Regions from separate parts of the Homo sapiens genome. Here region 1 is linked to region 2. Evidence: fine-mapped expression QTL. A gene starts in region 2. The other region holds a variant in brackets. All regions are shown on one strand. Distances are from middle to middle.

Region 1 (2,914 bases), 30 kb before region 2:
CTTTACAGTAATCAAGAAAAATTCTTTTCTTTAGAGTTTAATCACCTAAGAATTCATCCCTAAACAGTACAATTAGTTTTGCCTGTTTCTAAGCTCTACAGAAATGCAATCAAGCAAGATTTATTACTGAGTGTTTGGCTTCTTATGCTCAAAATTGTGATGTCAGGATTTACCACGTGTTGTAAGTAACTCCTACATTGCAGCTAGCCTTTTGACTTTCTTAATCGTGTGTTTTGGGAAACATTCTCAATTTTAAAAGTACACAAACGTATCACTTTTTCATTACATTTAATGCCTCTTTGTCTTTTTGTAAAAGCCATTCCCAACCGTGAGGGCATCCACAATCCATCTAAACTTGATTTTGGTACGGGGTGCAAAAGTATGAATCCAATTCCATTTTTTCTCCAAGTAGATACTCAATTGTCCCAGCAGCATCTACCGAAAAGCCCCCTTGCTGTTCCTGCCAACTTGAAGCCCGGAGGCCTGCTGGGAGGAGGAATTCTAAATGACAAGTATGCCTGGAAAGCTGTGGTCCAAGGCCGTTTTTGCCGTCAGCAGGATCTCCAGAACCAAAGGGAGGACACAGCTCTTCTTAAAACTGAAGGTATTTATGGCTGACATAAAATGAGATTTGATTTGGGCAGGAAATGCGCTTATGTGTACAAAGAATAATACTGACTCCTGGCAGCAAACCAAACAAAACCAGAGTAAGGTGGAGAAAGGTAACGTGTGCCCACGGAAACAGTGGCACAATGTGTGCCTAATTCCAAAGCAGCCGTCCTGCTTAGGCCACTAGTCACGGCGGCTCTGTGATGCTGTACTCCTCAAGGATTTGAACTAATGAAAAGTAAATAAATACCAGTAAAAGTGGATTTGTAAAAAGAAAAGAAAAATGATAGGAAAAGCCCCTTTACCATATGTCAAGGGTTTATGCTGACTTAATAACAGGTCTTGATCTCCAAGAGTGTCTTTCTGCCTTATTCTCTTTCAAGAATATCTTGCCTGTTCTCAGCCCTTTGAGTTTCCACATACATTTTAGAAACAGCTTGTC[C/A]AGATGCACATCGAAACAAAACAAACAAAAAAACCTGTTTGTGATTTTGATGGGAATTGCATGAGATTATAAACAAATTTGAAGAAAATTAACTACAAAATGGATTCATATTTTAATCCATGAATACGCTGGATCCTTCAATTTATGTCTTCTTTATGGTCCCTCAATAAAGGTTTACAGTTTTCTTCAAAGAAATCTTGTACACTTTCTATTACTTACTCTTAGGTACTTGATTTATTTAATGCTATCATAAATGGTGTTTTTTACAAAAATAATCACCTTCTAACTGTAGCTGGCATACAGAAATACAGCTGATTTTTATATTAATTTCATATCCAGGAACAATAAAAACTATTGTGGAAATAAATGAAACAGAATAGAAAAAATCAACAAAACTAAAAGTTGGTTCTTTGAAGAGGTCAACAAAACTGACACATTTTGGCTAGACAGACCAAAAAAAAGAGAAAGAAAACCCAAACTACTAAAATCAGGAATAAAAGAGGGAACATTATTACCAACCTTATAGAAATAAAAAGGAGTATAAAGGAATACTATGAAAAGTGTATGCCAACAAATTAGATAACCTAGGTGAAACGGACACATGTCTGCTCAGTGGATCACGACCCTCTCACACGGACCCCCTTAGAGTTGTAAGCCCTTAAAAGGGACAGGAATTGCTCACTCGCGGAGCTCGACTGCTGGAGACGTGAGTCTTGCCGAAGCTCCCAGCCGAATAAAGCCCTTCCTTCTTTAACTTGGTGTCTGAGGGGTTTTGTCTGCAGCTTATCCTGCTACAGCCTAGTTGAAAAAATTTATGTTCAAGTGCTATTTCTTTTGCGGCACTGAAAATTTACTTCTAACAAATTTGGGGGCCCGCCCGGGATTCCCATTCTCCTTTGGTGAAGGGTCTGGTCCTCTCCCATGAGGAGGCATGCCCCGCTGCCTTGTTGCAGTGGCCTCAGGGGTAAGGAATCAAGACCCACCGGGTGTGACAAATAAACCCGGACTCTCAGCAATGCAGAAAGAAACTGGCTGGCGACCTGGGGAAAGGGATCATCACACACCGCAGCGACCAGGTAACTCTGTGCACAGACCAAGGTAAGAAACACCACAGGAGCAGCCAAGCGTTTCCTCGGTGGTCGGGATACTCTGCGGGGGTTGAAAGTGTGTGTGAATGCGAGGAGCCTCCAGCAGGTGGGGCTAAAGGATAGGAGACACATCTCTAAGATGAGAGATGGGGCCTAACCAGGACCCAATATGGGAAATACCCCAAGCAAGACAGGGACCAAGAAGGACAAAGATAACAAGGATATTCCCCTTGAGTGCCCCCTAGGTCTCATGTTAAAATACTAGAAGGATAATGAAAGGACCAAAAACAAGAAAAAGCAGCTGCTGTCCCAGACCCTTCTCCTATCCCCATTGTCCCCCTCCTTATAACCCTGCCTCCTGGGAACTGTCCCAGGAGCCCACTCACTACGAGCGTTAAGTCCTCTTCCCTAAAAGGACTTCAGCGTGAGATAGAGCAATGTAAAAAGGATTTTCAGAACTTCCCTTTCCTCTCTTCTCGGGGGAAGAAAGAGCCACGATCCGTCGAACTGCTATGGGAGTCTTGGAACGTGAACACCCTTCTGGCCAAAACGTTCCTACAGCGGATCAAAAATTTCCCGCCCAAAACCTCAGGTGGGACAATAACAATGCAGCCCCTCAAGAAAATATGCAGGACCTTAGGGAATTGATAATAAAGGGGATTAAAGAATCAGTATCCCAGAATCTTACCCAAACATTTTATGTACAGCAAGGGAAAGATGAAGCACCTATAAAATTTTTTAGATTAAAGGAACAAATGAGAAAATATGCTGGTCT
Region 2 (2,914 bases):
CAGGGCTGGGTGCAGTGGCTCACGCCTGTAATCCCAGCACTTTGGAAAGCCGAGAAGGGTGGATCACGAGGTCAGCAGATCGAGACCATCCTCACTAACACGGTGAAACCCCGTCTCTACTAAAAAAATTAGCAGGGCGTGGTGGCGGGCGCCTCTAGTCCCAGCTACTCAGGAGGCTGAGGCAGGAGAATGGCAAACAAACAAACAAAAAACAAAAAATTAGAACTCTGAGGTGAAAAGCACACGCTATATAAACACACACAGGCTCATAAGAAAATAATTGGAATTAACTGGCTCAACTAAGTGATGCAGGTTTCAATAGGTGAAGGTATATCCCCCCACAATGAAACTTGATTTGGGCATTATATATGATAAGTGACTAGGCTGTACCGGTACGATCTTGCTGAGCCGAAAAAAGAAATGGAAGCATATATTTTCATAGTAAAATTACTTCTGTTGGAAAAATAACGACCAAAAAGCTCTTTGGTCAGAATTACGTGTTGGTAGTGTCAGCACCAAAAGCTGTAGGAGAGTCCAGCCTACGTGGTGTCTTCTGTACATAACCACGAACAAAAGCACTCCGAGCAGGGCATTGTATGAAAGTAGATTAAACAGAAAGAATGTAGTATTTCCAGAACTCTAATGGGTGTCTGTATAAGGGAAATCTACGGGAGTTAATAGCCAAATTTAAAGGCTACGGAGTCGTAAGTCAGATGTCTCCCCAGCCATGAAGGCAGCAGGATCCGTGTGTCTGTCTCCTCTCTGTCCCATCCTGCACCCCAGACTCGGGACAGGTCTTAGCATGGACAACGTCACTCAATAAATATATGCTCCTTCAATGCTTAGAGAATCAATAAATATATGCTACCTGAATGCTTAGATTATCAATAAATATATGCTACCTGAATGCTTAGATTATCAATAAATACATGCTACCTGAATGCTTAGAGAATACGTAAGCGTCTAAACCAGAAATACACACTTTTTATTCTCTGAAGAGGAAGACTGCTGGAGTATTCTTACACACAAAACAAGAAACTAAAACAGAATAGCCACAAAGACACTGTCAGTACAACTCGTAAGCTTGCTCTCCCGTCCTCAAAACACGAGGCAAAGGGAGACTCCGATCTCCAAGAGACCAAAGCCCTCCTCTCCTCTCCGACCAAACATCTAGAAACCCGCAGATTCAACAGGTGCCCCCGCTGCGGGGCAGGATGAAGCAGAGAGAGGGACAACTCAAGTTCTTGACCATTTCGCCAGGGGAGCTCCCCAAACTGAGGCAGAAATGCAAAAAGCGGGAAAGAGGAGAAGGAAAGAAAAAAAAATGTGTGTGTATATTATACACGCACGCGCACACACACATATAGTTAAGGAGGTGGGACAAAGCTATGGCAGTATTTGAAACATCTCTCCCTCTCCTCTTCTTGTCCTCACGCAGGGCTCGGGGACACGTAGGGCGCATCCCTGCGGGAGAAACGCTCGTTTGGGGCGATGCGGGGTCCCCGGCCCAGCCGCCCGCGCAGCCCCGTCCCGCCCCGCCGCTGTACCCAGCTTCAGGGCCGCCTTCTCCAGCACCCGCTGCAGCTTCTCCCGGGAGCGGCCCGCCACGGCCCAGGGCAGGCGGGAGCTCCGCTCCGGGTCCACCTGCTCCCGGGCCACCTCCTCGGTCACGAACTGGCCGGTGAAGCCAGACGCGCCGAACACCACCAGGTGGAAAGGCCTCTGCTCGGTCGCCATGACGAGTCCACAGCGAGCCCAGGCCCCGGGGCGGGTGGAGTCCACGGCGCCTGCGCCTCAGGCAGCGACCCCAGTACCCGGCGCAGCAACGGCCGCCGTCGCCGCAGCCAGCGCGCCGGGCTCCCTTCACCCCGCGCGCGCCGCCGCGCCAGGGCCGCGCCCACGCCCACGCCGCCTCGCGCGGGAGCCGCGGGTGAGCGGCTTGCTTGGGAGGCTTCCGACGGGAGGTTTCCTAGGGCGGTGGCCCTGGGGGCGAGTCCGCTTCCAAGCCTGGCAGGCGCGGACGGCGGCCCCTAATTCCGTGCGGCGGTTTGTTCTGCAGGGCTCTGGCCGCCCCGGGCAGCGCATCTTCTAGCCCTGCTGGAAGCTGGAGGCGGCAGCCGGTTGTCCTTGTTGCACGTGGGGGTGGAGCAAAGAGTGCGAGAAAATCTGCGGATGGCCTCGGGGATGGCCCACCCCGAGAACCCTTGAGCTTGCTTGCTTTCTTCCTTTCTTTCTTCCCTTTTTTCCCTTTCTTTTCTCTTTTCTGTTTTTGAGATGGAGTCTCACTCTGTCGCCCAGGCTGCAGCGCAGTGGCGCGATCTCGATTTACTGCAACCTTCGCCTCCTGGGTTCAAGCGATTCTGCCTCAGCCTCCCGAGTAGCTGGGATTACAGGGGAGCGCCCCCACGCCCTGCTAATTTTTGTGTTTTTAGTAGAGATGGGTTTTCACCTTGTTGGCCAGGCTGGTCTCGAACTCCTGACCTCAGGTGATCCACCCACCTCGGCCTCCCAAAGGGTCGGGATTACACGCATGAGCCACTGCACCCAGCCCATTCCTGATTTTTAAAAACTCTCATTAAAATAGGAATAAATGAATGCTTTTAAAAATTTTGAAATATATGTCTTGCAAAAAAGGTACAGCCAATAACAAATATGTACCCTCAACACAGCTTAAGAAAAATATTCCAGATAGCGAGGCTTCCAGGTATTCATTCCTGAACACATTTCCTTTTGCGTCCCCAAGACGGCCACTTGCCTGAATTTAGTGTTTATTATTCCTATTCCTATCTTTCTGCTTGTTATATATGTATGTATTTATAAATATTATAGTACCGTTTTGCATATTTTGAATATTTTGTAAATGTCAATCCTGCAGCTTTCTTATTTGGTCATGATGTCGTGAACTTATTCCCAA

Alleles and levels. Positions count from the first base shown, and alleles are read on the strand shown. Sizes are in standard deviations (SD) of each study's normalised expression.
As copies of A replace C in region 1, the expression in prefrontal cortex of the gene that starts at base 1,751 in region 2 goes down (large effect, 1.0 SD a copy in GTEx).

The links. PIP is the estimated chance that this variant, and not a neighbour inherited with it, causes the effect.
Region 1: its variant is fine-mapped to the expression of SCCPDH in prefrontal cortex (GTEx, PIP 0.95).

What each region holds. Positions count from the first base shown.
Region 1 is chr1:246,753,433-246,756,346 of GRCh38, reverse strand. All of the region lies in intron 5 of SCCPDH (saccharopine dehydrogenase (putative)), which reads right to left. It also overlaps the pseudogene RPL35AP6. Among named protein-coding and RNA genes, the nearest start is that of SCCPDH, 30 kb to the right of the region's middle. RefSeq lists a silencer at 2,175-2,325. The variant C/A (reference allele first, on the strand shown) is at 1,052.
Region 2 is chr1:246,723,246-246,726,159 of GRCh38, reverse strand. It overlaps SCCPDH (saccharopine dehydrogenase (putative)), which reads right to left and starts at 1,751. Exons shown (of 12, transcript NM_016002.3): 1 at 1,548-1,751. The coding sequence starts at 1,737. RefSeq lists silencers at 1,398-1,607, 1,708-1,777, 1,818-1,947 and an enhancer at 2,158-2,317.